Regions from separate parts of the Homo sapiens genome. Here region 1 is linked to region 2. Evidence: fine-mapped expression QTL. A gene starts in region 2. The other region holds a variant in brackets. All regions are shown on one strand. Distances are between the middles of the regions.

What was found.
Region 1: its variant is fine-mapped to the expression of ZBTB18 in whole blood (TOPMed, PIP above 0.99). The same link has a PIP of 0.9 or more in T cells.

What each region holds. Positions count from the first base shown.
Region 1 is chr1:244,066,889-244,082,276 of GRCh38, forward strand. LOC440742 (a long non-coding RNA gene) reads left to right here. Exons shown (of 3, transcript NR_188395.1): 3 at 1-1,022. Among named protein-coding and RNA genes, the nearest start is that of ZBTB18, 23 kb to the left of the region's middle. RefSeq lists a silencer at 979-1,273 and enhancers at 7,928-7,977, 10,090-10,590. The variant C/G (reference allele first, on the strand shown) is at 8,104.
Region 2 is chr1:244,043,797-244,059,184 of GRCh38, forward strand. It overlaps ZBTB18 (zinc finger and BTB domain containing 18), which reads left to right and starts at 7,487. Exons shown (of 2, transcript NM_205768.3): 1 at 7,487-7,648; 2 at 9,992-13,680. The coding sequence starts at 7,636. The coding sequence ends at 11,574. It overlaps LOC124904570 (a long non-coding RNA gene), which reads right to left and starts at 4,445. Exons shown (of 2, transcript XR_007066975.1): 1 at 4,215-4,445; 2 at 1,887-3,801. It overlaps LINC02774 (long intergenic non-protein coding RNA 2774), which reads left to right. Exons shown (of 12, transcript NR_033883.1): 11 at 1,432-1,495; 12 at 3,096-3,521. RefSeq lists enhancers at 4,126-4,285, 6,496-6,545, 8,262-8,763 and silencers at 4,456-4,575, 6,726-6,815.

The DNA of each region.
Region 1 (15,388 bases), 23 kb after region 2:
GAAATGCAAGTGGGAAGTGGGATTCACTGAGAAGCCATCATTCTGCTCAGGTGAGTCCTGACTTCAGGCGAGGGATCCTAAAGGTGACACCGCGATCCTTCACCTGGAAAGCCAAGGAGACATGACATCAGTGTGTTTCACATCCTAAGCTTAAACAAATGTATATTGTTTTTACCGCCTCTTTCTCAAGGGGGAACACTGCCCCTGAAACTGCACTCCTTGAAACCGAGCAAAGGTGCCATCGCTAATGATTAGCAAGACGCTCCGGATGGTTTGCATCGAACTCCACCTGCTATGTGAAAACCCCATGCTTTTCTCACTTTCCCATTCAAGCTGCTTAGCAGTTGGGTCCTCTCCTCTGAGTGTGGTTATGTGTCAGTTTGACTTCTGTGTGCCCTGCGATTTCGTTGTTTTCTTCTGCCCTGCCACAGCAAATGACCAGTGGAGGCAACCAGCGGACGGAGGAAAAGGGCAGGTCCCTGCATCCATCTCAGCGCCCTGCAGCCGGCGGCCTGTCCTTTCAGGCGGGAGTTCCCAGCGGCGTTCCTAGGTGTTTTGAATGTGTGCCCCGGGGCTGGGGGAAGCCTCGTGCAGTTCTGCTGCTGTGGGAGGCAGGGGGGACTGGAGGGGACGGGAGCAGTGTGAGGCTTTCATGTGCAGAGGGGACATGAGGACATCTGGATGGCATCCCTGTGAGCAGGGCTCCCGCTGCAGGCCTTTGAAAACCCCGCTGCCCTGGCTCCCCAGTGCCTTGGAACTTTCTCCCTGGAGAATGCAGAAAAGCCAGTGCCCTTGATTTCTTAGACATCTACAGCTTCGACACGTGCAGGGTTATCCAGGAGCAGTGAGGTTTGGGGTGAGGGCCTGAGCACTTTCTGAAAAGTGCTTGTTTCTAAGAACCTGGAACTATGAGTGAGGAGTGACATGAGTTCTGCCCTCAAGTCCTCTGATAACCAGCTGTGCAGTCTTGAACAAGTGACTTCATCTCTTCATCTTTAAAATAAACCTTTTGGGCCAAATGACTCGAATGTTTTTCCAACTTCATTTTTTTTTTTTTTACTGTTTAACAGAAATGCTGATTGAACTTGGGCTGGGAACAAAGAAATCTTTTCTAATTAGAGTAGAAATGATGACTAATATACTGCTCAAGCTTCTGAGGCTCATTGGGATCAAAGACACACTCACTCTGATAAGGGAGGGCACTGACCGGGCTGCTGACTGTTTCCACCAGCCTTCGGGTTTTAATATCTAACTACAGTTATGCCCATGCATGCTGGCCATGTGCTAGACACACGCTTCCTTGTCTTTGCTCAAGTCTAGTGGCTTTTGGGTTATTTGTATTTTTTAACAGGAGAAACCTGAGAGATCCTAAGTAGATATCAGGCAAGAGCTTGTCTAGTTCCATGTTTTGTTTTGTATGTTTTGTTTTGAGATAGGGTCTTGCTCTGTCACCTAGGTTGGAGCTCAGTGGTGCAATTGTGGCCCACTGTAGCCTCGAACTCCCGGCCCAAGTCATCCTCCCATCTCAGCCTCCTGAGTAGCTGGGACAACAGGCGTGCGCTTCCTGGCTAATTTTTTTTTTTTTTTTTTTTTTGTAGAAACAGGGTTTTGCCATGTTGCCCAGGCTGGTCTCAAATTCCTGGGCTCAAGCGATTTGCCCTCCTTGTTCTCCAAATGTGCTAGGATTACAGGCATGAGCCACCGAACCCAGTCCACTTCCATGGATTTTAAAAATGTTAAACACCTACCTTTAAGAAAGATGATGAGGCAATATCACCTTTGTTTTTGTTGCCGTCTATCAGAGAGAATGACTCCTAAGGAGTCATTCCTATGAGTCTTGCAGAGTGATTTTCTGTTTGTTCAGCTCCTTCACAGAGTCTTGGTTGGACAGCTCCCCGTCACCTTCCCCGACAGGGCCTTGCCTTTGAAAAGGCTAATTCTGGTAGACAGGCAGCTTCAACAGGAAGTGGCACACCAAGGACCATCGCTTTTGGATGTGGTTCATGGGATGTGGAGTGTCCAAGGAGATGCTGATAGGCCTAAAGATCAGAGATCATTTGACTTCGGTAGATTGTCAAAAGAGAACACAACACAATTGCAAATGGACTTTAAAATGAGAGAAAATCAAATTTCTAGTGACAATCATAAAAATGCCACAATCCACCATGGACAGCCACACCACCAACCTAGTCATTTTTTATATTTCTAGCTTGTACTTAATCCATTCCAGCATGGAGCAAAACGCTATCAGTGTTCTGTGAAGAAACAGTCCAAGAGAATGATTGCAGTCTAATTTGCATAAGAGTCTAACTCAAATATTTTCACTTTTTTTTTCATTTTGAAGTCACAAAGTAAAATGGTTGAGGAATTTAAGATTAGCATGTAAGCGAGACTGAAATAGGACTATGTTCTCATATTAGTTAAAACTCTTTGGTTGCAAGGAAGAGAAATCCAACTTAAGTGAGTTTAAGCCAAAAAAGAATTTTATTATAAGGCTACTTGGATTCAATGGAATCCAAAAGAGGAATATGGCTAGGCCTTGCAAGCAGCTAGAACTAGAAGCTCAAATGCCGTCTGGATTTGCTCTCCTCTCCTTGCCTCTGATTCTCTTTCTGCTGATTGGCATTTTCTATTCCTCAGTCCACATGGTGGAACAGGGCTGCCAACTGCTTCTGCATTTACATGCCTTCATTTTCAGACACCCAGAGAGAGACTGACTTCTTTTGTCAGTTGCAGTTCCCAAATCCTGGGGGGAGGGCTATGATTGGCCCGTTTGGATCAGGTGCCCACCTCTTGACCAATGGTCGGTGCCAAGGGTGAGGCCCGTTGTAGCAAAAGTTAGTCTCCCATGGTGCCATATTGAAGGCACCGCATATGCATGCACAGGGGGCATGGGAGCAGGGCAGACAGTTTCCCAGAATGCGGCTGGTGCTGAGCTGACGAAGCAATGGGGGCTCTTTACATATCTCAACGAAAATTAAAGGGAAATGAGGAGAAAATATTATTTCTTTGGAAGTGAGAATAGTATATTCTCCCTTTTGGTGTCTCCAGAGTTCATTTCTAACCCATGGCCAAATGGTTAAGTGAAATAATGTTGTTTTTTTTTTTAAAAAAAGTACAGTAAAATATCAATTACTTTTCACTTAACTTGGCTTATCTAATCTTCTTCCCTTATGACCTTACAGTCTTGGAGCATGTTCACATACATTTTTCTGAAACCCTTACTTGATCCATGCTGCGGAGGCCATGTGACTCAATTGCTGAGCCGACCCTTCAGCTATTTAATACTGATCCAGATGCCCTGTGGGTGGGACAGAGGGTGATCAGACAACAGCACCCATGAACAAAGAAGATGTCTCCCCTTTCCCCGTGTTCGGGACGGAGGAAGGAGACTCGTGTCACTGAAGAGCTCTGTATTCACAGCAGGTGTGGAATGTGTGTTCTCCACGTAGAAACACCGGAATCTAGGAGGCGAGGGCATGGAGGCGTCGAGAGCATCAGTGCAGGTTAATGGGAACCAGGCCCTCTGAGACTGAGCACCCGGGAGCATCAGCCAGGGTACTGGCTACTGACAAAGTCACACTCCCCTTCTCCCGTGCTTTCAGTGCCACTGTCTGAAAATGAAGTTGTCCCTTAGAAGGTCCCTCTTTCCAGCCCCTGGGAGACCTGGCTTTCCTGAGCCAAGAGCAGAGAACCACTATTTCATTTTTTATTTATTTAAATTTTTTTTAACTTTTGTTTTGTATTTTTAGAGATGGACTCTTATTCTGTCACCCAGGCTGGAGTGCAGTGGTGTGATCATAGTTCACTGTAACCTTGAACTCCTGGGCTCAAGTGATCCTCCTCCCTCAGCCTCCCGAGTAGATGGGATTACAAGTGCATGCCACCATGCCCAGCCCCACACAGTTTTTTGTTTTTGTTTTTGTTTTTGTTTTTTCTTGAGATGGAGTTTTTGCTCTTGTTGCCCAGGCTGGAGTGCAATGGTGCAATCTTGGCTCACCACAACCTCCGCCTCCTGGGTTCAAGTGATTCTCCTGCCTCAGCCTCCTGAGTAGCTGGGATTACAGGCATGCGCCTCCACGCCCGGCTAATTTTGTATTTTTAATAGAGACGGGGTTTCTCCACGGGGTTTCTCCATGTTGGTCAGGCTGGTCTCCCTGCCTGGGATTCTCCTGTTTCAGCCTCCTGAGTGGCTGGGATTACAGGTGCGTGCCATCACGCCCGGCTAATTTTTGTATTTTTAGTAGAGATGGGGTTTCACCATGTTGGTCAGGCTGGTCTTGAACTCCTGACCTCATGATCTACCCGCCTCGACCTCCCAAAGTGCTGGGATTGCAGACGTGAGCCACTGTGCCTGGCCTGCACTCCAATTCTTGTGATTTGTATTTGGGGGGCTTTCGGGCCTGACATTGGGCTCCCAACCTCAGGTGATCTGCCAGCCTCGGCCTCCCAAAGTGCTAGGATTACAGGCATGAGCCACGGCACCCAGCCCATAGTTTGTTTTAAATGGCAGACACAGGCTGGGCTCTGTGGCTCATGCCTGTAATCTCAGCACTTTGGGAGGCTGAGGCAGGAGGATCACTTGAGCCCAGGAGCTCAATATCAACCTGGGTGACATAGTGAAACCTCATCTTTACAAAAAAAGCCAAAAAACAAAAAACAAAAATTAGACAGGTGTGGTGGTGTGCACCTGTAGCCCCAGCTACTCAGCGGGCTGAGGTGGGAGGATCGCTTGAGTCTGGGATGTTGGGGCTGCAGTGAGCTGAGATGGAGCCACTGCACTCCAGCCTGGCGACAGAGCAAGACCCTGTCTCCAAAAATAAAATAAATAAATAAATAAATAAATAAATGCTAAACACAGATTGTCTGGACGTGTGGCTCATCACTTTTTAGGTACTCATGGTCCCATCACTAAAGATGCAACATAATCAGAATCAGACTTGTAAGAGATTGAACGAAGCTCCTGATTAGAATTAAGTCCTCAAGGTCAATGTGGAGACACATTGATTCAGTGTGTCACGGACTCTGGAGGAAACAAAGGGGGACATTTCAGGCACCATGGGTTTTGTTGTTGCTGTTCGTACTCCAATTCTTTTTTTTTTTTTTTGACGGAGTCTTGCTTTGTCACCCAGGCTGGAGTGCCATGGTGCGATCTCGGCTCACTGCAATGTCCACCTCCCAGTTTCAAGGGATTCTCCTGTTTCAGCCTCCTGAGTGGCTGGGATTACAGGTGCGTGCCACCACGCCCGGCTAATTTTTGTATTTTTAGTAGAGATGGGGTTTCACCATGTTGGTCAGGCTGGTCTTGAACTCCTGACCTCATGATCTACCCGCCTCGACCTCCCAAAGTGCTGGGATTGCAGATGTGAGCCACTGTGCCTGGCCTGCACTCCAATTCTTGTGATTTGTATTTGGAGGGCTTTCGGGCCTGACATTGGGCTGCTGCCTCTCTTCAGGCCTTTGTTGATCTTCCTGCCTGCCTGCTGCGTGGATGGGGTGCAGATCCAGGCTTGCCCACTTCACGATGGTGAGAGCTTGGGCACATGACAGGGTCCCTTGAACCCCAGTTCCTCACTAACATAGGGATTTCAGCAACTCTCTCTTAGAAAGGCCATGGGGACGTGTGAGTTGGTACCTTTCAAGCAGTGGAAGCATCGTCTCTGCTAGGATCCTTTCAGTCACTGTTTTCAGTGACCGAAAACAGACACAGACTAGTGTGAAGAAAGAATAGACTTTATTAACTCACACGGCTAGGAAGCCCAGGAGCAGCGCTGGCCTTGGGGGTGACTGGGCACAGGGCTGAAGATGACACTAAGTTCTTTCATTCTCTGTTTGCCCTCCTCACCCCATTTTCATGGGTTCGCTCCTGTATTTCCAGCTGAAAATGGGCTTTCCTCACATAATGGGGGAAGCTTGCCAGAGGTGGAAATGGAACTAAGGTAGAGGGAAAATGTTGACGAAGTGGCTACTGCACACTTGGGCCTGGGGATACAGCAGTTCCTGCCGTCATGGAACTTACTTACCAGCCAATGAAACAATGAAACCAAAAATGACCATAAAGTATCATGAGTGTTATAAAAGTGAAGTGCACCGAAAGAGGGGTCGCGCTGTAAGTGGAGTCCAACCTGGCTGATGTGCCAGAGAAGATTCTTCAGAAAGTGGCAGGGGAAGAGGAGTCAGCCTGTAAATAAGCGGGTGGAACAGTGTTTTGGGCAGAGAGTTAGCATGTGCGAAGGACCAGACAGAGAACTGGGCAAATCTGAGGAAACTGTCAGATCTTTCTCAGTCCAGTGGGTCTGGCTAGAGCACGATGGGAAAGGTGTATCAGTTTCCCAGGGCTGCCAAACAAATCACCAGCAACTGGGTGCCTTCTAACAACAGTCCTTTATTCTCTCATTGTTCTGGAAGCAAGAAGCCCAAAATTAAGGGGTTGCCAGAGCCATGCTCCCGCCAGAAGCTCCATGCGGGAATCCTCCCTTGTCCCTGAAGTTCCAGTGGCCGGTGGCTCCAGGCGTTCCTGGTGGCTGCACCACTCCAATCTCTGCTTCTATCTTCACGTGGTCTTCTACTCTCTGTGTCTTCTCTTCTGCCTCTTTTTTTTTTTTTTTTTTTTTGTGATGGAGTCTCACTCAATCACCCAGGCTGGAGTGCAGTGACACGATCTCGGCTCACTGTAGCCTCTGCCTCCTGGGTTCAAGCAATTCTCCTGCCTCAGCCTCCCGAGTAGCTGGAATTACAGGCACCCACCATCATACCCGGCTCATTTTTGTATTTTTAGTAGAGACGGGGTTTCACCATGTTGGCCAGTCTGGTTTCGAACTCCCGACCTCAAGTGATCCTCCCGCCTCGGCCTCCCAGAGTGCTAGGATTTCAGGTGAGAGCCACCGCACCAGGTCTCTCTCTGCCTCTTAAAGGACACTTGTCATTGGATTTAGGGCTCACCTGGGTAATCTAGGATGATCTCCTCATCACAAGATCTTTAACTTAATGGCATCTGCAAAGACCCTTTTTCCAAATGAGGTCACATTCAGAGGGTCCGGTTGTTAGGTGTGGACATATCTTTTTGGGGATCACCATCCAATTGAGAGAGATGCTACTGGGCTGGTCAGCCAGGCCAGGACCTAGGGGATCTGGGCCTCATCCTAGAGCAGGAGAAAAACATTCCATTTTGCACTCCAGAAAGAACACTGTGGTTGTGGATGTGCCATGTGAGATGCAAGCAGGGTGGCTGGCCTGTCAGGAGAGGACCGCTGTGGTCCACGTGACAGGTGATGGAGGAATGGGCTGAGGCAGCAGCCCAGCCAGGGATGGAAAGAAGGGTTTGGGTCCCAGTCAAACTTAGAAAAAACAAGTCAACGGGACTTGGGGACTGATGGGGCTGGGTGGCTGGCGGCAGGGTGGAGGCAGGGTATCATTGGATGATGTGTATCAATGTGATACGTATCCCTCACATTAATTTTTCCCAGGAGACAGTGCTAGGAGGATGGAAAGAATATTGGCTTTGAAATTGGCGAAACCTTGGTTGAATTCCCAACGCTATTCCACTTTCCAGCTTCTTGACCTTGGTTGTGTTTCTTACTATTTCTGAGCCTCAGTTTTCTCCGACATAAAATGGAGATAATAATACTGAAATCACAGGGCTCTTGAAGGAATTAAATGACAGCCTATGTGGCGTAGTGGGCTCTGGGTGGCCACCTGGGCACCACAGATGTGATGTGCTCTTTCCTCCTCCTTCCTCCTGCCTGACCAACGTCCCTTCCTGCAGGGGCTTCCCCGGGCGCTCAGCTGCACCCACCTCCTACTTCTCTCCCACTTGCTTCCTGCACGGCTGGCTCCACCCCACCTGCAGCCTTTTTTTTCTCCTGGGACCTGCCCACGCATTGCCCTCTCCACTGTCCTGGAAACTTCAACAGATATTTTCTCACCTGTTACCCCTAAGTAGCCCAGGCTGCAAAACGGGTAGTCTTAGCGCCTTGAAAGGGAACCTGAAGGGCTTGCTGAGTTTACTGCCGGCTGCGATGTGTTCGTTCACTGGTTTATTCCTGCATCTATGCATCCACTCCCTCAACAAACACTTCGAGTGGGCGAGGCATTGTCTCGCAC[C/G]GCGAACACTGAGCTGAACGGAAATGTGGTTCTCACCTCATGAAGTTTACTAATTCTACCAGGCAACCCGCCCTCTCTGAGCTCATGAATTTTCTGGTTGCACTGATTTAATGGCTTCACTCTCTGGCTTTGACACCCCCACAGGTAAAGTGAGGGAGAGCGGGAGGAGCATGAATTTGATTGTCCAGTCTCATCCGGGCTAGGTGGACATTAGGACACACAGGCAGGTTCCCAGGAGGTGGAACAGAAGCTGGAGCTTCCCTGAGAAAGCAGACACCCCCGTCCTACCTCTCAGACACATTTCCGTCTTCACTGGTGATGTTTTTCTCCACCCCGTTTCTTGCCACTTGCCATTCATAATCACTGCTCTTGGTCTGGTAAGCAGAGAGGGCAGGACAAAAATTTGATTTACTTACGACAATGTTTTACAAGCTTGAGCATAAAAACATGTGGTTTCCTGGGACTGGCCATCCCAGGAATTTGGCTGGGACATTAAGGAGTTGGCTGGCACTAACTGTAAGTGCCTACCACTTCCTACCCTCCTGGGGGAGGCTTGCCTTGCTCTTCTGAGCACTTTCTAACTTCAGGCTGTCTGGAGCCTCAAGGTTCTCCAACGTATGCAAATGCATGTGTTCTGACACAAGATGCAAATGTCAGGAATCCTCTTTTAAAAGGGCCAGTCTCTAAGACTTGCAAAAACGGCGACCGGAGACTGACTTAAACCTACCACCCGGAAGAGATGTTGGCTGTGAGGAAGGGAGAAACAATGAAGTGTGAGATGGTGTGAACTCTGGAAGGCAGAACCTTAGGGAAAAACGAAAGAGTAATTTCGTTCGTTGATGAATTCATTTATTCTACTAAGTATTGTGCAGAGCACTATAGGGTTTACCAAGAATAAAAATTGTCTCTATCATGGAGGACCTAAAAGAGATCAGAGAGAAAAGTTTTATTCTCGGTTTACCAAGAATGACAATTGTCCCTATCCTGGAGGACCTAAAAGAGACCAGAACCTTAGGGAAAAACGAAAGAGTAATTTCGTTCATTGATGAATTCACTTATTCTACTAAGTGTTGTGCAAAGCACTATAGGGTTTACCAAGAATAAAAATATTGTCCCTGTCCTGGAGGACCTAAAAGAGACCACAGAGAAAAAGGCAAGTACACATGAACATGTGTTTTGCTTTGAGGATCGTGCAAAAAAGCTGATATGAGGCGAGCACCTCATGTTTAACGTACTCTGCTTCACTCGACATAAATTCCTGCTAGCTTCCCTAACAAAGTTTCAAGGTAGGCACTAACACCATTTTACAGATAAGGAAACTGAAGTTGAGAGAGTAATTTTTCCAGGAACCAGGGTTCCAACCTAGATCAGCTGACTCTGAAGCTTATTAAATCCACCTGTGGAAAATCAAGTTAAGAAACAGATTAAAGGGGCCAGGTGCAGCACTTTAGGAGGCTGAGGTGGGCGGATCACCTGAGGTCAGGAGTTCGAGATCAGCTTGGGTAACATGGTGAAACCCTGTCTCTATTGAAAATATAAAATTCGCTGGGCGTGGTGGCATGCTCCCGTAATGCCAGCTACTGGGGAGGCTGAGGCAGGAGAATAGCTGGAACCCAGGAGGTGGAGGTTGCAGTGAGCTGAGATCGGGCCACTGCACTCCAGCCTGGGCGACAGAGTGAGACTTCCATAACTTTTATGATATAGTTTTCAATCAGCTGATTTACCTCTACGATTTCAGGAACACCCTGGCATGTTGCACGAGGCTTTGCCTGCTGGGGTGTCTGTTGTTCAGTCTAGACCAGCATGCAGCCACGGCTTCTTTTGGCCTCCGTGGCCAATTCCAAAAGTTCATGTGAGAAGGGGTGAAGAGGGATTTTAGAGCCAGAAGGGAATTGAGCTTTCCTCAGCCTTATAAAAGCATGGAAATTGAGACCCAGAGAGGTTAAGTGCCTGGCCTAAGGTCACACAGCTTGTTAATGGTGGGGAGACGAGACTTGGTTTTGCCCAACTCTCCTTCTGCCATCTGTCGCTACTCAGCACAGTAAAGGAGATGGCGCAAGTCATCTGTGGCTCGCAGAAGTGCTAGGAATAATCCCATTCACGCATTTGATGGTACCTACTGGAGCCCCATTATTTCCAATTATTTACATGCTCCGGGCACCTGCAGCCAACCTGTACGTGCCCTTTCCCAGGGGTCAGACTTCCCTGGTGCCATGTGGACTCAATGCAGCATGCAGCCTCAGCCCTATTTTGTCTCTTCTATGCATTAAGGGATCCGTTTACATTTAATTGAAGCTTGGCATACTCTGAGCTGAGGTGGACTTGCTTTGGCCTTCTGAAAAAAGCATGCAGTTTTGGCCTATGAGTTTGAGTTTCATAGAGTAGCTTCCAATACCGGAGGGAAGCTGGCCTGTTACTCTCTGGAGTCTTTCTGAATCGCACAAAATCTCTGTGTATGCCTTCTTTGTTGTTCCTTTCCCAGAAGCGTGAAGTCCCTCAGATTCCACGGCGGTGGGGCTGGGAGAGCCCAGGTCCGGTGCGGGCCAGAGATCCCTGCGCGTCGGCACGTGAGCAGCCCCTCTGCGGTCTCCCGTCCTCACGGAGAGGCTATTACAGCAGAAGCTCCCTCGGCCCCCTCCCCACCCCCTCGTAGTTGAGGAGGAAGTGAGAAAGGGCTTGGCTTGGTGCCTGGCACACAGCAACCCTCCGTAAAAATGCCAGCTATTACTATTGCTATTGTTGCTATTATTCTCACGACTTCTCCATCTTCTGCACCACCCACAGGCTGCTTTGCTGTGAACACGGGGATGTGGAGAAGAGTGAATGAGCTAGTGGGATGGGAGCGACTGAGTGTGAAGGTTAGGGAGGGAAATAAAACAGCCCACAGCCCTGCTGCACTCAGCACCTTCTCCCTGCCTGCAAAGTCCTTCCTGGCATCTCTGGAAATCCTGACTGCCCCACGAGTCTCCCACCTCCTCCCCTGTTTCTGCACCGCCACTGGGATTGGTACTTGCAACTTGAATGGCTCTTCTCGTGTGCTGCCTTCTCCAGGGCCCACTCATGCCTGTGGCTGTTGCGACCCTACTATGTGTCATGCATTTGACATTGAACATCTTATTTATTCATTTAGTTATTTATGGCAGGGTCTCACACTGTCTCCCAGGCTGGAGTACAGTGGCATGAACACAACTCACTGCAGCCTTGACCTCCTGGCCTCAAGCAATCCTCCCACCTTAGCCTCGCAACTAGCTGGGACTACAGGCACTCACCACCGTGGTCAGCTAATTAAAAAAAATGTATTTTGTAGAGATGGGGACTCTTGCTATGTTGCCCTGGCTGGCCTCGAACTCCTGGGCTCAAGCGATTCTCCTGCCTCAGCCTCCCAAATTGCTGGGATTCATCTCTTTTAAATTCTCACATCAACCTTAGGAAGGAGATGTTTCCCATTAACCATGACAGATAAAGACACAGGGCTCAGGGCAGTTAAGTGACTTGTCCGAGGTCACCATAGAGTGACAGGGCAGAGAGGCAGGCTTGGGTCTGTCCAGCTCCAAAGCCCATGCTCTGTCCATGCATCTCAACACTCGCTATTGCTGCAGCTGTTGTTGGCTAGCCCTAAGGTGAGCCACGGTCACAGACCTTCAACCCACAGCACAGTTGGGGGATATGGGTGATTTTCTTTTCTTTTCTTTTCTTTTTTTTTTTTGTTTGTTTTTTCGAGACAGAGTCTCACTCCATCACCCAGGCTGGAGTGCGGTGGCGAGATCTCAGCTCACTGCAACCTCTGCCTCCCAGGTTCAGGAGATTCTTCTGCCTCAGCTCCCTCCAGTAGCTGGGATTACAGGTGCGCGACACACATCCGGCTAATTGTTGTATTTTGTAGAGATGGGGTTTCACCATGTTGGCCAGGCTGGTCCCAGACTCCTGGCCTCAAGTGATCCACCTGCCTCAGCCTCCCAAAGTGCTGGGATTACAGGTGTGAGCCACCATGCCCGGGCTCGACTTTCTTATTTATGCATTTCTGTGTTGACCATATCTTTTTCAATGAGCTTGCATTACTTGTGTGCTGTAATAGGAAATAATATTAATAATCTCTGACAGCACCCTGGACAAGTGTCAGCTCACTGATTCCTCATATAACCCTGGGTGAGGATCTTGTGATTATCATCCTTGTTTTCTAGAGGAGAAAAGCAAGTTGTAGAAATGTTAGATAATTCACCTGCTGTCATCCAGTCCATAGTGGCAGAGCTGGGGCTTAGACCCTGGTGGGCCTGATTCCCAAGATCTACTGTTGACTGTGGAGCTTACTGCTTCCAAGTGGAAGAGAAGGGTTTTGTCTTAAGAATACAGGAAGCATTTTGTTTATATGAAATATCCATAATCAGCAAATCCACAGATACAGAAAGCAGATTTGCTGTTTCCAGGGTGTGGGGTGGACGGTGGGAGATGCAGAGTGACTGTTAATGGGTACAGTGTTTCCTTTTTTCTTTTATTTTTTTGAGACAGAGTCTCGCACTGTCACCCAGGCTGGAGTGCAGTGGCACGATCTTGGCTCACTGCAACCTCTGCCTCCCGGGTTCAAGCGATTCTCCTGCCTCAGCCTCCTGAGTAGCTGGGACTACAGGCATGCGCCACCACCCCCAGCTAATTTGTGTATTTTTAGTAGATATGGGGTTTCACCATGTTGGCTAGGCTGGTCTCCATCTCTTGACCTCGTGATCTGCCCACCTGTTACTAAGCTGTTACTGAGTATTTCTGGAGGCAGGTATATTTTGAAAGCTCTTTTATTTTATTTTCTTTTTTTTTTTTTGAGATGGGATCTTGCTATGTAGCCAGGCTGGAGTGCAGTGGTGTGATCTTGGCTCACCTCAACCTCCACCCCCGAGGTTCAAGCGATTCTTCTGCCTCAGCCTCCTGAGTAGCTGGGATTACAGGCATGTGCAACTACGCCTGGCTAATTTTTGTATTTTAGTAGGACGGGGTTTCACCATGTTGGCCAGGCTGGTCTCGAACTCCTGACCTCAAGTGATCCACCCGCCTTGGCCTCCCAAAGTGCTGGGATTACAGGTGTGAGCCCCCGCGCCTGGCAGGAAGCTCTTTTCAAGAGAGAAAAAAAATCTCATGAATGCAGAAAAAGCAGCAGCAGCAGCCCATGGGGATGGGAAACTCTAAAAACAGCATAGGAACAGGTGACCATTGGAATTATTTACTCTACCAAAGGGGTCTGGAGGTTGAAAAATCACACTAGCTAAGGGTTACAGTCTGCTAAACGCTAAGTTCTTTATGTTGATTATTTCAATGAATGTTCATCAGAACCCTGGGAATAGTTATTTTTATCATATCCATTTCACAGATGAGGAAACTGAGCTGTAGAGGGGTTAAGTGGTCATCAGGACACTAGTAAGAGGCCGAGCTGGGCTTTGACTCCAAGTGGTCTGACCTCCAGGTCCACACTGTCACTTGTGTGTCCTGATCCATTACCTGTGAGTGCAGCACCCACAGGCAAGTCCCACTTCACTTCGAGAAAACATTCCCATTTTTATTCTTCCTGCTTTCATCAGTAACTGCTTGTCCGGCAGGAGTAAGTGCTTCAGAAATACTGAGCTCAGTGAACCTGCTAAACACAGGCACCCCGGTGAGACTCTGCCGGATGATGACAAATCGTGTTCACATTAACCTTGTGCCCTGAAGGTTGCCTTTGGTGGGAAGAGGCAGAGAAGACGTGAGTTTCTTGCCAATTCCACCTGGTGGAGAGCCTGCCAGGCCTCCTGACTTGTGGTCCTGTCTCTGACCGGCACGGTGGCTGCTTTTCCTAGGCAAGTGCGGCATAATGTCCCTCCCTGTGATGGCCGGTGCAGCTGCCCAGGACAGGTGTGCAAAGACACAGCTCCACCGAGGCAGGGTGAGAAGAGAGTTTTGAAGATTGAAAAACAAAATAAAAAGCCAAACCCATAACTTTCTGCCGTAGATATTCTTTAAAGTCCTGGTGGGGGCGAGGTTGGAGTTATTATGCTCTGTGTGTGTATGATGAGATACCAGGGCAAGCCACTGTTAATTTTATAATTCAAATTCTGTTTGAATAAATAACCATAAAAACAACAATAATTACCCCATGCTCTGCAAATATTTGCTCTCCACATAAGGGTTTATGGTAGAAGCATGAAGTCTTGGGGTCCTCAAACTTCAGAAAACAAAGGGTACAGATCTTAGGGAAGCTCCAGGCAGAAACTGAGGGGGCTCCTGGAAAGTCTCTGAGTGTAAATGATACAAAGGCCGTCCCTCTGATGGTTGGCAGTAGGAGAATAATCATATCCTGGCCATTCCAGATTTATTTATTTTATTTTATTTATTTATTTTGAGACAGAGTCTCCCTCTGTTGCCCAGGCTGAACTGCAGTGGTGTGATCCTGGCTCACTGCAACCTCCGTCTCCTGGGTTTCAGTGATTCTCCTGCCTCAGCCTCCCAAGTAGCTGAGATTACAGTCGTGCACCACCACACTAGGGTAATTTTTGTATTTTTAGTAGAGATGGAGTTTCACCATGTTGGCCAGGCTTTTCTTGAACTCCTGACCTCAGGTGATCCTCCCACCTCAGCCTCTCAGAGTGCTGGGATTATAGGCATGAGCCACCGCATCTGGCCCCATTTTAGATTTAAATTCCAGAGCCATCCACAACCATTTTCCCTGCTCTGTGCATGCCCCCGCTTCCCCCAACCCCAAATCTAATCAGTTGATGGGATCCATCAATGTGATTTCTGCATTGCTTCTCCTCTGTCTGCCTTCTACCTGCCTGTGTCTAGTGCAGTACCTCATTACCTCCTGCATGGACCATTGCAAGAGTCTCCTACCTCGTTCTTCTAGAAACCAGTGCAAACTTTCAAAAGCATGGACGAGGTCAACTCACTCCCTCGTTCCAAATTCTGTAGTAGCTCCATTTTACTTACAGAATAAAACACGAACTCCCCAGCCTAGCATATAATACACTGGGTGATCTAGCTCCATCCAATCTTTCACTCACTACTTATTCAACACGTATTCCCCGAATTCCTCCACGCACCAGGCATTGGCATCCCCTCTGTGTGCACAGTGCTGCCAACAAAGTCCTCGTCCTTCTTTCAAGGACCCCAGAGGGTGGAGGGGGTCACACCAGGGTGCTAAGGACTTGCCCAGCTGGAGCCCCTGTGAGGTCAGGGAAGGCATCCTGGAAAAGGTGACTTATCTAAAGTCACTTGAAGTCACCCAAAGAAGGCATAGGAGGGAGCCAAGAAAAGATGGAATGGGTGTGGG
Region 2 (15,388 bases):
GGGTTCTGAATATCATAGGTTCATATTAAATCTTTCTTTAGTAGAATTTACTCATCTGGAAGTCACATGTTTAGTTGGGTTATTTTAAATGGTAAATCTTAAAAAGCCCACAGATGAAACGAGTGTATCTTTTAATTATCCAAAGTAATGCAGCCTTCAACCCCACAGATTAACTCCAACATCTGGTATTTGAAGGCATGTGATTCTTAAGGATGGTAGACTTGCCTTTAGAAATTTGTTTTGTTTAGGATAGCCTTTAAATAATTTTTAACTGATTAAACTCCCACCAGTGAATGATACAAAGGCATCCTGTGTAGCAAGGAAGCCAGCCAGCCTGGGGTTCAAAAGTGGCCTGGGATTATATACAAAGTGAATGATGAATATATTTATAGTACAAAGTTAACAAGAAAAGCCATCATTGTGTGCATTTTTTTCTTCCATATGCTGTAACGTATAATGTATTTTATGGGGAGACTGGAGGAGATAGAGGGGGGAGAGAGAATGAGAAGAGGGTTGTGAGTTGGGTGGCTACTGAAACACCTCTTTGCTTTTTTCCTAAATTCTCTGAAGTGGCCTGTCTTAGTCCCAACCAAGCCAGAAGTATTGGCCTCCTTCAGCCATTATGCTGTCTGTAAAAGCACTGATTTACAGTAAGCAACAAAACACTGGCTACACAGGAAAAAGAGTTTTAGGGAGACTATCCTTTGCTCCCCTCTGCCCTTAAGCCTCAGCAGGTTTGAATCACTGGTGTAGGTTCATTCTGCTTTCATTGGCATACCACCAATGCCTGCTGCAAATCTGCTAAGGACTTCTCAAGAGTTTATGACATTATTTCTATCTTCAGGGCTGAGAATCAGGCTGAATTATCTCCAATTTAGGGCTTACCATAGTTTAGGAATTTAATAGATTCAAGTATCACAGAATTTATAACCCAGGGAATGATTTGACATAGAAAGTGCTTTGCAGAATTATAAATATATTTTACAGATAAGATTAGACTGTATTATAGAGAATTATAAATACGTAAAATATGTATTTTAAGAATGATGCTATATAAAATATGCTCCCTGTTCACTTCATTCTGTCTGTAAAAAAAACACACAGGTTACAGTTTTTGATGTATCAATGTCTCCTCCATATCTTTGGGGCTGTTACTCTACTTGCAGGTACATTCTATAAAACATTTTGTTAGAGCTATGCCTTGGCTTTAGATGCAGTACAGCTGAGTTTCTAAGCTTTTTGTAGATAATCCGAGTGTACTAATATTTTCATGAATTGTTTAATATCCTGACACTATCAATTACTTTCTGTCTACTCATGTAGAGATCTGTCACTCTCCTTAATGTGTTGTGATGTGTGTTCTGGTTTGTTCATTTACTTTTTTTTAAATCACTGTCTCAACTGTGTTTCAGTGTTTCCTTTTCCCTTTAGAGCATATCAACCTGTTCATTTCTAAATGCCAGAAGAGAGATGAGACAGAGAGAAAAAAAACTAAGTAAGTTCATAGAGTTCCATGTATGCTCTAATATTGAAAGTGAGTGGGCTTCATAGAAGCTTGAACACACTTCCCAGTTTAGTGTATTTTTTCTCTCTAGGTTCAAAATCAGGTTGACCTCTACTTACGTTTTGTTAGATTTTATAGTTATTATATTATCAATATAATACCTTCAAACACCTAGTATTTTACTGTTGCTTGCCTCCCTAATTTTTAAAGAAACATTCCATTCCTGTAGGAAATTAATACATTTATAAAATATCAATATCCAAAAACTAGTTTCCAAGATAACTTTTTCAATATGACCTATTGCATAAAGTGTAATAAAAACACTGAGGTTTTTCAGAGATTTGAGCTGTGGTTCACACTTAAAGGTCAGACATTCATTTTATGGAGTTGCTCATCAAATTAAATTTTATTTGATCCATCAACATTTTATACTATTACATTGTTATTAGTTGAAATGAATATGTTATTAGCACATAAAACTTGTTCCCTGGCAAGAAAGATTCATTTGTATCACTTTTAATTTCAGGACACCTAGAAAAGTATGGATTAACTAGAACTATACAGGACTGGATTCCTCCAGAAAGAAAGTATGGTATCTTTTCCCAAGAGCTTAGAATGTATACTTTTTGCCCTTTTCTCCCCCACTATGGGGGGCTGGGGAGAAGTATAGATTATTAGCTAAAAAACAAACAAAAAAACCGACAAACTCGACAGGTGTCAAGTAGCTGTGTGTCTTGGTAATTTGCTCAGCCTGTTATATAGTGGTAAACACCCTACTTTGAGGTGCTTACTTGAGGCGGATATTCAGACTTTGACTTATTACCTTCCAGGGTTCCAATGGGTATTAAATAAAAATACTACTCATTCTGTATTATGACTCCTCCGATATCAGCCTACTTTTACTCACAATTTTCATGGTGATAACTTTCCAAAGGATTGAAAGTATCATCTGTACGATAAGTTTATAAAACAGTTTAAGACAAGAGAGTAAAAACAATTTATTTAAATGTGAAAAAAAGGGCATAAAAGACAGTCACACTAGGGGACTCTGGATAAAATGGTTGTAGCAACTGAGGGGCAACAGATTTGCTTCCTTAAATATCCATTTAATCTATATTTCCTGGCCACACTGCTCAGTTCCCAAAATGGATTCTAGTAATGACTGTAAGGGAAACACAATACACACACACACACATACACACACAGGTTACAATTTTTGATGTATCAATGTCTCCTCCATATCTTTGGGGCTGTTACTCTACTTGCAGGTACATTCTATAAAACATTTTGTTAGAGCTATGCCTTGGCTTTAGATGCAGTACAGCTGAGTTTCTAAGCTTTTTGTAGATAATCCGAGTGTACTAATATTTTCATGAATTAATATCCTGACACTATCAATTACTTTCTGTCTACTCATGTAGAGATCTGTCACTCTCCTTAATTTTAACTTTTAGTAGATGAGAAACAGCTTTGATAACGCAAACATTTCTTTTTCCCTGAATTAGTTGGTGAAACATATACTTTTCACATCTCATTTTGTGTGCCTGTATATTTCATTCGTGAATAACATTTATTCCTTACCTTGAAACAGGTCAGACTGAAATTGGGCCTTCTACCACTAGACTGAAAAGACCTAGAATTCATCGACAGCACAGATACAACAAAAGCCTTCATGGAATACAAAAACTCCAATTTTCATAGGATATCCTTGACCTCAGTGATGAATCATGAGGGCGTAGAGGGTTGAGAAAAAAGTAGGCACATCACTACTGTTTCTAACCAGATATCTCGAAGCTATTTCAGTTCCAGGAATTCTGTCTGCTCCTGTTTTTACTTCATTAGCAATTCAACATGTCTGATTTGCCCACACAATACTTTCCAGCTACTTTACCCATTTGACCTGGAACAAAGTGAAAGCACATTTTGCCCAGTTGAAAGGTCTCCTGGCAGGTTGGTTAGCAACAGGCTTGCCAGTCTGGGTTCTGTTAGCAAAGAATAAACACATTTCATTAGACAATGACTAGTGGACTGACTTCCTCACTATGAAGTTGTTTTTTTTTTTCTATTTTATTTTCTTCAGCCATTCCCCCTCCCCCACCACTTGTTATTCAACTTTTTACTTGTAATTCTTGCCTCGATACGATTTCCAATTTCTTGACGGCAGACATTTCCACGTCTTTGTGGCTGTGATTAACGCAGTCTAATTGCCAAGAACAGGTACCGAGTAAAAGTTTATTTGAAGGAAAGAAAAGCGACACAGCAGTCTTACATCGTCCCTCGGTAGTTTAAAGTTGTGGCTAGATACGTATCAATTAAGGAATCAAGCTGAGGCATCTGCAAGTACCAATTTTACTGTAATGCTCTAAAATTTGGTCACTTGGGGAAGTCTTTACTTGTAACAGTGTAAGTACACAAGGGACAGGAGGGTTTTGCGAGAAAGGCGGGCGCTCTGCCCTGTTCTGCCCGTGACATGATGACGTAAGAACGACTCCCAGAAACTGCCTGAGTCGCCTGCGTCCCCAGCTCCCCGATGTGCACCTGGGCGCGGGACGCCGCAGGACGGAGCGAGAGCGCTCCTCGGTCCCGCTCCCCTGCGCACGGGCCGGCGAGGACCCGGGCGTCTTCACCCCCACAGGAAGGAGCAGAGAGAGCCACCCGAAGTCGGCCTCGAGTCATCCGTGTCCCCGGGTGCCCTGCCTCTCCAGGATACCTGCGTAACTCGCAGCAGCCAAGCCCCACTACGTTCAAAAGTGTGTTTGTGGTTGTCACAGTGCACACCGAAAAGCTCGCTCCGCACCCGCAGAGTGCGCGGGGCCTCTGAGCCTGGAAACAAGCCCCTCCCAGCGCAGCTGTCGCCGCCGCCTGCGGGCTCCTTTCACTTTCTCACGGCCAAGTCACCCAGAGGGGCGCCGCTGCTGCCACCGCCGCTGCGCCCGAGGACTCCGCCCCGCGCCGCTTCGCTCCGGATCCCCGCCCGCCCGAGCCCCGCCCACCCCAACAGTTGCTGCCTGCGATTGGAACGCGCGGGAGGGCAGCTACGGCTCGCCACCCCCATTGGCTGGGCCCCCTTGTCAGTCCGACGACTGCCCACCACCCCCTCCGCCTTCCCGAAGAGCCGCCTTCCCATTGGAGGAGTCTGAGGGCTGGGGGCGGGCGGGGAGCGCCGGTCCAGCCGCTTTCGGTCAATCGCAGAAGCCCAACGCCCGGAGGGAGGGAGGCAGGGGAAGGAGAGGGGCGGACTGAGGGTGGGGGGAACATCTGGCCGGCGCCGCCGCGTGCGTGCGTGGTGCGTCCTCCCGCCCCCTCCCCTCCCCCTCCCCCGCGCCCGCCCCCCCCCCGCCCCCGCCCCCCCACCCGGCCCGGCGGCTCCGCGCTCGCTCCCTCGCTCGCTCCCTCGCTGTGTCTGGCAGGCTGCGGCCGCCGCTGGGCTGCTGCCATGGGGAGCCGTTGAGAGTGGGGCCCTCTTCGCTCCGCCGCGCTCCTCCGGCTGCCAGCGGGGGTGGGCGGGAGGGAGGGGCGGGGGGGAGCGGGCGACGGAGCCGGGATTGGGGGGTGGGGGGGCCGGGAGGGAGGGGGGCAAGAGCCGGAGGAAGCCCACCAAGTCCGGCGGCGGCGGCGGCGGCCGGGAGGAGGAGGAGGAGGAGGCGGAGGACGCGGCGGCGGCGGGGACGCGGTGACTTAGGGCCGCTCCGTGTGAGTCCCGGCGCCGGCCCCTGGCCCCTGACCTGGCGCCCCCTCCGCGCCCCGGCACCCCGGCGGGCGGGGGGCGCCAGCTGTGCGGCCCCGGCCGGCTGGGCGGCGCGGGCGGAGGGCGGGCCGGGTCGGGGGCGCCCCCGCGAGTGGAGTTAGTTTGTGTGGTTGGAGCTGTTGGGGCGGCGGGGGGCGGCGCAGCTGCGGGAGGCCCGGGCGCGGGGACGGGGCCGCTGCAGCTGCGGGGTCGGGCGGGGTGCGGGTTCCCGGCTCCGCGCCGCGCCCCCGCGGGCCGGTGCAGCTGCGGCGCGGGGCGGGCTCCCGGCCGGTGCAGCTGCGGTGGCGCCTCTCGGGTGCGGAGGGCGGCGGGCTGGGGGAGGGGGCTTGGGAGCAGCCGCAGCTGCAGTGGCGCCCGGGACGGCCGCGGCTCCGGGGACCGGTGCAGCTGCAGTGGCGCCCGGGGGAGGGGGCCGGCGGGGGAGGGGGCCCTCCCGGGCTGGTGCAGTTGCCCGGAGGCCCCGGGGGCTCGCGCGTCGCGGCATCGGGGAAGCGGTAGCAACCACTCTCCTCCCGCTGGCTGCTTCTTACGACTTTTCTTTTGTTGTTGCCGTGACCCGGGTCTGTTTTCTCCTCTGTTGTTTAAGGTGTTTTCCTGCTGCACCGGCTCTGCGCCCTCCACCTCCTTCCCTGTGGTTTTAACCTTCCTCTTTCCCCGTGTGTTTTATGCACGGCGAACTACGTAAAGATTTGCATTGCTTCCCCACTCGGCACCCCCGCCCCCACCTCTCTGAAAAACAAAACCCCAACCTCACAAAACCTCTATGGATCCGCGGTAGCGAGACGTGAAGGGGTTGATTTGTGGAGTGGGAGTTGCTGGCCCATTGCGGTGCCCGGGACTCATTAAACTGTCACTCACCCCCCACCCCACTGGGTAAATGGGGTGATTAATGTCTGATATATTGGAATGGGTCGAGGGCATTTGTGGAGAATAGGTGGTGTGGCTGGGAAGAAATTGATCTCCCGAGGATGTCTCCTGGACTAAGTGTTCATAATTATGTCACTCACCGCGAAGTTGGAGAAAGTTAGGTTTGTGACTTTGGGAAAGCGAGAAGGACAGGACGGAGTCGTCGGGTTTTGTTACTCTTTAACTCTCCGCCACGGCTTTCTAATGGGAACGAAGTGGTTATCACCAGGGCTGGGACGCTGGCGCCTCAGGCCCCAGTTCCTTTTCTACCCCTCGCCCTCCCAAGAGTCTGAGGAGATGTATTTGACATTCAGAGATGTCGCAGCACCCTGCCCGGTACCGGTCAGCCCAGCCCGGGTCGCGTTACAGTTTCATCAGCTATTAGAAAAGACCCACAAACTGGCTGAAAAGTTCTCAAACTTACTAGACCTGGCTTCCCCCCACACAAAGATTTTCTTGTGATCATAAACATTAGAGTGACCCCCCCCCAAAGAAAAAAAAGATTGTTAAGGGACACAGATCAAGGGGAAGGCAAGGTTCTGCTTTTTCTGAGCAGAAAGATCAGATATGCAGGTGCAGCATTCATTTTAAGTGACTGGAGCAGGTTGTATCAGTTTATTAATTGGTCTCGTTGAACTGAAGTACTTTCCAGGATTTCAGAAAGTGCAGTTTCAGCTTGTTGGTACCGAGAATTGAAATTTGCATTGACTGTGGCAGTGTAAGAAATTTTTCTGAGAAGGTAGTTGTAGATAAGTAATTACATAAGAGTGAAATAATAAGGTGAACCAGTCTGAAGTAATAGTTCTGAACAAGTCTGCCAACATTTGAGACATGTATACCATTATCTCAGCAGAAAAAAATAAAAAAGTGCGGTAATAATGTTGAAATGGGACTGGAGATGTCAAATGGGTTGGTTTAAAAATATCCCTAAACTGCTTTAGAAACTAAACGTTGGAGTTGAATAAAAGTGAATCTGGATTTCCTGAATAGCACCGTGGCTTGAGTGTGCTGTCAGTATGTAAGCCAGTCCACCAACTTAAGACAGAAGTGTTGCTATTCCATAAATACAGTAGAACTCCATATGCTGAGTTTTTCAATTTCTTCTGTTAGAAAGTTTGGAAAAAAAGGAAGACTTTGAAGTATTTTGTTTATACTAACAGAAGAGAAAAGTTCTCCTAAGAAAAAGCTGGTGGCAGGAGTGTAGAGGAGTAGCATATGGCATTAAAAGGAGCACAGCTGGAGGTAGCATTTCCATCTGAACATGATGTCAGAGCAGCTGACAGCCTGCCATCCCTCAGCCTTTTATTCTAACACACAGACAGGGAGTTAGTGTGTGCGGATCTGTGGTGGAGAAGGTATCTCATTCCTCTCTAACATCATCTCCACTTTGCATCTGTCTCTCTTAGTCTGCTTTTTTTCCACCGATGTAACAGACCTGGAGCCAGCAGGACTCAGAGGAAAGGACTTAATCAGGTTTATGTGTCCTAAAGGTAGGAGTAGCAAGAGATTAGATTGAGCATATTTCTGTTTTGGTGTTTTGTTTATTTAATTTTAAAAATCACATTACTTTTCTAACCCAGTTTAGGAATAATATATGAAATTGAGTATTAAATGAACATCTTACTGGAGTTGAAAGTCTTGAGCTTGTTTAGTTTTAATTTTTTATCCCTTTTACTTGAGCGAGTAAATAACTTTAATACACAAATATTTCAAGTTTTGAAATGTTAAGAAAGGCTTTAAAATGCTGCTTTTGGAAATCACGTTGGATTAAAATGCTTTTTTGTTGTTCACTGCTATTTAGATTTGATTGGGGTGGTGGTGGTGGGGAAATAGTAAACTGGAATCCAGCATTCAAACTTATATGAGAAGATTATTCTAGTTAAGCAGCTAGATTGTTGTATAATTAATTCCTCTGTGAAACTTTATTCTTCAAAACATTGAGCAGCACTACTGAAACATACAGCTGTAGTGCTGTTGAAACTGCAGGTTTTTAAGAAGAAGAAAAAAAAACCAAACTTTTGTCCCCAGGAGAATAGTTTGACTGGTTTCCTCATTTCTCTTTCAAATATATATTTAAGAGATCTTTTATTTCAGCATAACAATAATTATTTGCAGGAGTTTTTGTGTTAGCGACTAATTTAGAACTTGTAGATTTGAGCTGCCTGAATTGGCCAGACAGCTGTAATCGCACTCCTCTATTCTTAATCTCTTTATCTGGGCAGCAGCTGCCATATGGCCACAGTCAGCTGGATCAGATGTTTATAAGCTTCCTTCTTCGTCCCTCTCTGTCCTCTCAGCCTCCTAATTTGATCACGGCTACCTTGTGAGCTGCCCTCCAATCTTTATTTTTAGCCTTCTCAAGGATTAGGATTGATGTTAGCTGTGGGGCACTTAAAGTGATTGTATTGTAAATCTTAGTTTATTCTAGCAGTGGCATCTTGCAGAATGTGTCTGGGGTTAGGATAAAGTTTTAGTCTGTCTTGGGCAAAGTGTAGAAGAACAAGAAGAAAGGAAGTAATTTCTGAATATTAAATTAAGTGTATCTATTCCCAAAATGCACTTGCTGAGATGGGTGGTGTGGAGGCTTGCTTCTGGTCACAGGAAAGGGGAAGTCGGGTCTTCTTTATTTTTCAGGAGTTTACCCACTGCAGTTGAATTCTGACCCTTTGTACATCTTTGCCTTTCTCCTCCCTCCATTTCACTTTCCCTCATCACAAAACAAGGGCAATGATGAATATTTGCAAGAATAGAAGCTAGTGGGAAAACAGAAATATATCAAATTATATTGAAACAAAGTATTTTCTGTTGGCTGAGGTAAGGCAGAACCAGGAAAAAAAAAAAGGTTCTCTTTTTCTAAAAAGGCTTAAAAAAAAACGTTGAACCTGTAAAGCTTTTGAGTTTTATTTAAGCGCTGTATGCCTTTATTTTTAAAAGTTTGAATTAATTTCAATATGAAACTCATTTTGCCTTGCAACGGATCAAAGTTTAGATGAGAATTTTCGGAGTTCAGTAAAGCCCCTCTGGTTCCTAATATTCTGAAAGTACAGTTTCTACAAAGAAATGTAACTACTTTTTTCTCAGTTCGTTTTGAAAAATCTTTGGATTTGTTCATAGTAAAGATGATCTTTTCCATCTGTTGGTGCAGCTCCTTCTGATCTCGTACATGTGTGCTATACCTGCAAATCTGAAGGCATTAACATCTGTTTTTATACACAGGGCTTTTGTTGTAACACCCTGACTTTAAAAGTAAGTTGTTTGCTAATTTCTGGACTAATTATGCAATTTCATTTTTTTTTCTTGATTCAGCCAAATGTGTGTGTGTGTGTTTAAACTGTGCTTTCTAAGCACAGTCAGGTAGCAAAAGTAATAAAAAGGATGGTTGAACAAGTTTTCTTGTATGTTCCAGGATATGTTTGGGACTTTTCTTTGTTTATTATATGAGTTGTTCCCTTTGAAATTAAAGCTATTTTGTAGGTTTTGTGGGACATAATTTGATAAGTAGAGTTAATTAAATTTCTTCTGGAAGAGATCTAAATTCTTATTCTTAGTGAGAGACTGTAGTTAAAGGAAGGCTTTTAGAACTTGGGTTCAAGGAAGATGGAGATGCGTCGGAAGCTCTTTGGCGGGGGTGAGGAAGTTCAGAAAGTGTGCATTTTCCTTCTGGCATTTAGGTCTTGTCCGTGTGATTTGGTGGTGCTTGGGTCATAAGCCTGATTAAAATTCAGGGACATGTACCACGGCGGCCAAAGCGGAATTAATTTTTTTATATGGGGACTGGAGCGCTGAAAAGTTGTTCCTGACCAGGCTCTAATGAGAAATTCCTCTCTCCCCAGGTTATGAAGACAGTATGGAGTTTCCAGACCATAGTAGACATTTGCTACAGTGTCTGAGCGAGCAGAGACACCAGGGTTTTCTTTGTGACTGCACTGTTCTGGTGGGAGATGCCCAGTTCCGAGCGCACCGAGCTGTACTGGCTTCATGCAGCATGTATTTCCACCTCTTTTACAAGGACCAGCTGGACAAAAGAGACATTGTTCATCTGAACAGCGACATTGTTACAGCCCCCGCTTTCGCTCTCCTGCTTGAATTCATGTATGAAGGGAAACTCCAGTTCAAAGACTTGCCCATTGAAGACGTGCTAGCAGCTGCCAGTTATCTCCACATGTATGACATTGTCAAAGTCTGCAAAAAGAAGCTGAAAGAGAAAGCCACCACGGAGGCAGACAGCACCAAAAAGGAAGAAGATGCTTCAAGTTGTTCGGACAAAGTCGAGAGTCTCTCCGATGGCAGCAGCCACATAGCAGGCGATTTGCCCAGTGATGAAGATGAAGGAGAAGATGAAAAATTGAACATCCTGCCCAGCAAAAGGGACTTGGCGGCCGAGCCTGGGAACATGTGGATGCGATTGCCCTCAGACTCAGCAGGCATCCCCCAGGCTGGCGGAGAGGCAGAGCCACACGCCACAGCAGCTGGAAAAACAGTAGCCAGCCCCTGCAGCTCAACAGAGTCTTTGTCCCAGAGGTCTGTCACCTCCGTGAGGGATTCGGCAGATGTTGACTGTGTGCTGGACCTGTCTGTCAAGTCCAGCCTTTCAGGAGTTGAAAATCTGAACAGCTCTTATTTCTCTTCACAGGACGTGCTGAGAAGCAACCTGGTGCAGGTGAAGGTGGAGAAAGAGGCTTCCTGTGATGAGAGTGATGTTGGCACTAATGACTATGACATGGAACATAGCACTGTGAAAGAAAGTGTGAGCACTAATAACAGGGTACAGTATGAGCCGGCCCATCTGGCTCCCCTGAGGGAGGACTCGGTCTTGAGGGAGCTGGACCGGGAGGACAAAGCCAGTGATGATGAGATGATGACCCCAGAGAGCGAGCGTGTCCAGGTGGAGGGAGGCATGGAGAGCAGTCTGCTCCCCTACGTCTCCAACATCCTGAGCCCCGCGGGCCAGATCTTCATGTGCCCCCTGTGCAACAAGGTCTTCCCCAGCCCCCACATCCTGCAGATCCACCTGAGCACGCACTTCCGCGAGCAGGACGGCATCCGCAGCAAGCCCGCCGCCGATGTCAACGTGCCCACGTGCTCGCTGTGTGGGAAGACTTTCTCTTGCATGTACACCCTCAAGCGCCACGAGAGGACTCACTCGGGGGAGAAGCCCTACACATGCACCCAGTGCGGCAAGAGCTTCCAGTACTCGCACAACCTGAGCCGCCATGCCGTGGTGCACACCCGCGAGAAGCCGCACGCCTGCAAGTGGTGCGAGCGCAGGTTCACGCAGTCCGGGGACCTGTACAGACACATTCGCAAGTTCCACTGTGAGTTGGTGAACTCCTTGTCGGTCAAAAGCGAAGCACTGAGCTTGCCTACTGTCAGAGACTGGACCTTAGAAGATAGCTCTCAAGAACTTTGGAAATAATTTTATATATATATAAATAATATATATATATATACATATATATAAATAGATCTCTATATAGTTGTGGTACGGTCTAAAAGCAGTCTTGTTTCCTGGAAATAAAAAGTTGGGATATTAACTTGTTTTTGCACTTTAGAATAGCATGAGAATCTCACTAATTTAGCATTCTGATAAAAGAAACTTTAGAGCAAGTCAGAATAGAGAGGTGTTTTTCCTTTGAGGGGATAGGGGAAGTAAGCCAATAAGAACCTTTTAAACAAATCGTCCTGTCACAAAATGCTTTCATATGGCTTAATTTTGTCAACACTGCATTGTCTTTTGAGCTCTTTTTTCCCCCCCAACAAAGTTTTTTTGTTTTTTGTTTTTTTTTTTAAGTAGAAATTCCCTCCAGTTTTATTAGCCTCTTTATATGTCTCAAATTGCATGAATTTTTTCTGGCTGTTGGAAACCTGAATGCTTTTAGACCCAAATGGAAAATTTCTGAAATGCTGGATTATCTATTTTTAAACAAGCAGTTGACTTAAAACTTTCTGTGGCAACTTCTGGTTTTCTGACAGTTCCCAGTGAGAGAAATGCTGAAAGTACACTGGGATCACTGGGACACTGTCTTATGAAGGTTTGCTTGGGATGAAAAAGGATATTGCAGCTTCAGCAGTGTTGAACTGTGTGTTTAAAAATGTGAATTACTGTTATTGTATACTGTAATTGATTACATGGGCTGGGGGGGTGTCAAAGAACTTGACAGGTTGTGTTGATGCTCTTAGTTGAGTCTTGAAAAGTAAATATTAACGCTACAGAAATGCATGAGTTTCAATATATTTTTTGTCTTTGTTTGCATTGTATAACTTTAACGAGTGAGTTTAAAATTATTTAATTTCCTTAGAAAAATAACACCATTTGGAAAAAAAAACTGGTGTTATGAAGAACGTAAATGCACTGTTTTTATTTTTATTTTATATAATTTAAATTGACTTTCCCACTGTCTTTAAGTTGAAACTGTTAAGCTGAATAAAAACTTAAGCTGCAAATTGATAACTTCGCTACATAACAAGGAAAATATAAATGTTTACAAACAGCTTAAAGATTTGCATGTGCAGTGTGCATTTATAACAAACTTCTAATTGCACAAAACCCATGCCAGCTCAGAGTTTAGGTGTACACATTTACCCAGTTGAGCGTTCTTAGAATAACTACTGCACAAGTTGACAATAGGTCGTTCTCTCTTTTTTTTTGTTTGCTCCCTTTTTCTTTTTCTCCCCTTCCTCCTTACCCTCCCTCCCTTACTCTCCCCCCCCACCACCACCCTCCACCCCCAACTCATGAAAAGATTCTATGGACTGAAAAAGCCCCAGGCTGAAAGGACTGGACTGCCTTGATTGACATGGGGAAGGGGGTTAGTAGACTATGTGGATTGCGGCAGCAGAGGCTGCAGCCTAACGTGTGGTTTTAATGACCAGCACGCAAGGCAAAAGCATTTTGCACAGTGTTTGTTTTCCTGTCTTGCACTTACAAATAAGGTCTATGGGAGTAGCATGGAAAACGTTTGCTGTTTTTCCCTTTTTTTTTTAATTGCTTTTGTTTAAAATTTGATCGCCTTAACTACTGTAAACATAGCCTATTTTTGTGCTTAAGATACTGAATGGAAAACTCCATTGTGTGTTGCTGGACTGTTTTGGAAATATTTGGTTAAATGTGTGTTAATTTGGCTGTAATGGCATTTAAAGCAAACAAACAAACAAAAAAAGCTGTGAAAATGGCCTTGGAGCATTATCTTTAGTTACTTGAAGAGTTTCTAGTTTTTTTAAAATACAGTTTATGTTAAAATAATTTTTATTAATTTAGAGAAGACAATCAATGTCTGTGAGAAAACGGACTTTCTTTTGGATTTTCTTTTTGTGGTCATTGTGAGTGATTGCTTTTTCCTTTTCTTAGTTTCACATTCTTCCTTTGTTCTAAAACTTAGACTGACATCTAGCTTTGACAATCATAGTATGTTTTATTTTCCTGAGGGGGAATAACTTATAATGCTGTTTAGTTTTGTACTATTGGTGTGTTGGTGAATTTTTAAACTGTGTGCTAACTGCAATAAATTATATGAACTGAGAATTTCTTGTGTGTATTTTTTATTGTGATTATGTAGTGTATAGATTCTAAATATGTATCATACCTGGCATCTTTAATATCAATTCTATTCGGAGTTTATGAAATTATTAGAATGCCTTAAATCACTCGAGTGGAAAATGTGTAAGCATTCTAGTCACTTAAGAAGATACTAAATGCACATTTAAAAAATGCGACCCATTTTCACAATCTACATCAAGAATGTTGAGGTAATTCCCTAGAAACTCATGAATCATGAAACTACGTGGCAGCATAGGTTGTTAAAAATACACTGTACAACTACTAATCCATATACCGTAAGTCACTTTTCGTGTGTAATTTTATCCTAAGTTGATCGGTCAAATCTATTCTCCTGTGTTCTGGTTTAAGTGGAAAATTGAAGGAGACCGGATGTTTTAATTTGGAAGACTGCTTGGCTAATGACTGGAATTCTAGGCAATTGAATTAGCAGGCATGCAATTGTTCACGATTAGCTATATACATCCTTTTTGTTGCTGGGAGAACTCGAAAGTTTCTAGGTTTTAATTCTCAAGTTTTAATTTAAACATGTAATTAAATACATGGACCATTAAAAGAACTCTGTTCCCTACTTTTTATGATTGTCCCAACTTCATGCTTATCTAGTTGGGTACATGTCAGGGTGAGAAACATTGCTGGTTGACCTGGGTAGGGAATTGACAGAACACTCACACATGCGGATGATACTGTAGAGGAATTGTCACAAACAACCCTAAGCTCAAGCAGTCAGGTGCAGGCATGGAGAGGTTTTGTAAACCGTGCTTGTCTCTAACTTCCAACCTTAAATAGAAATATGACTATGAAATTTTACATTATTACTGTCAAACTATGTTTATATTCAGTGGCCTATAGTAAGGTCAATATTTTTAACCTACAGAAGTGGGATATAAGGTCTGAAGTTTGAAAATGGACCATTTACCAACTACCTGGTGGCTTTGGATAGGAAGCCACAGGGATTTTGTCATGAAGTATAATAACATAATTTGGAATCCTAATTTCCATCCCCCTGCCTTTTTTTTTTTTTTTCTAAAACAATTTTTAAAGTATGTAACTCATCCTTGGTTTTAACCAGCCAAATACTGTTTCACATGAAAGGGGAATGTACATTTGACCCCCATAGAATAATTTCTTGAGCAGTTACAAGCTTACAAAAAGGGGAGGGAGGGGGACTTTTTATTTTCAGTTCCTATAGTAACTGGTCAGAGTATCTCAAAGCTTCCTGAAGATGCTGAGCGTTTACTTGAATTTAGTTCTGTGGACTAACATCTAATTTTAAGTAAGGAACATTATCTTAACAATCTTAACTGGATATACTTATAAAAATAATATTTTGACATGATTTGGAAGAAGTAACTTCTTAAAACATTCTTTGCAAAACTAGAACAGAATATTAATTACACAAACTGCCACATTTGGTAAGTGAAATGAAGGAATCATTTATTTGCCACATTTAAAAAAGGAAATTAATTTGTCATGTGATCATGTTGGAAACCATTAAAACTGATCCCTCCTTTGACATCTGGCTGATACATAGTATATTTTAAATATGTAGTTTTATTTACTTTAGAAAACTTCTTTTTCCTTTAGATAATCAATTATGCACTGGATTGATGTGGGTTCAGCATTGTGTGCTAGGGGTACCCTAGGGAAGATCCAAGAAGTATAAAGTGTTAAG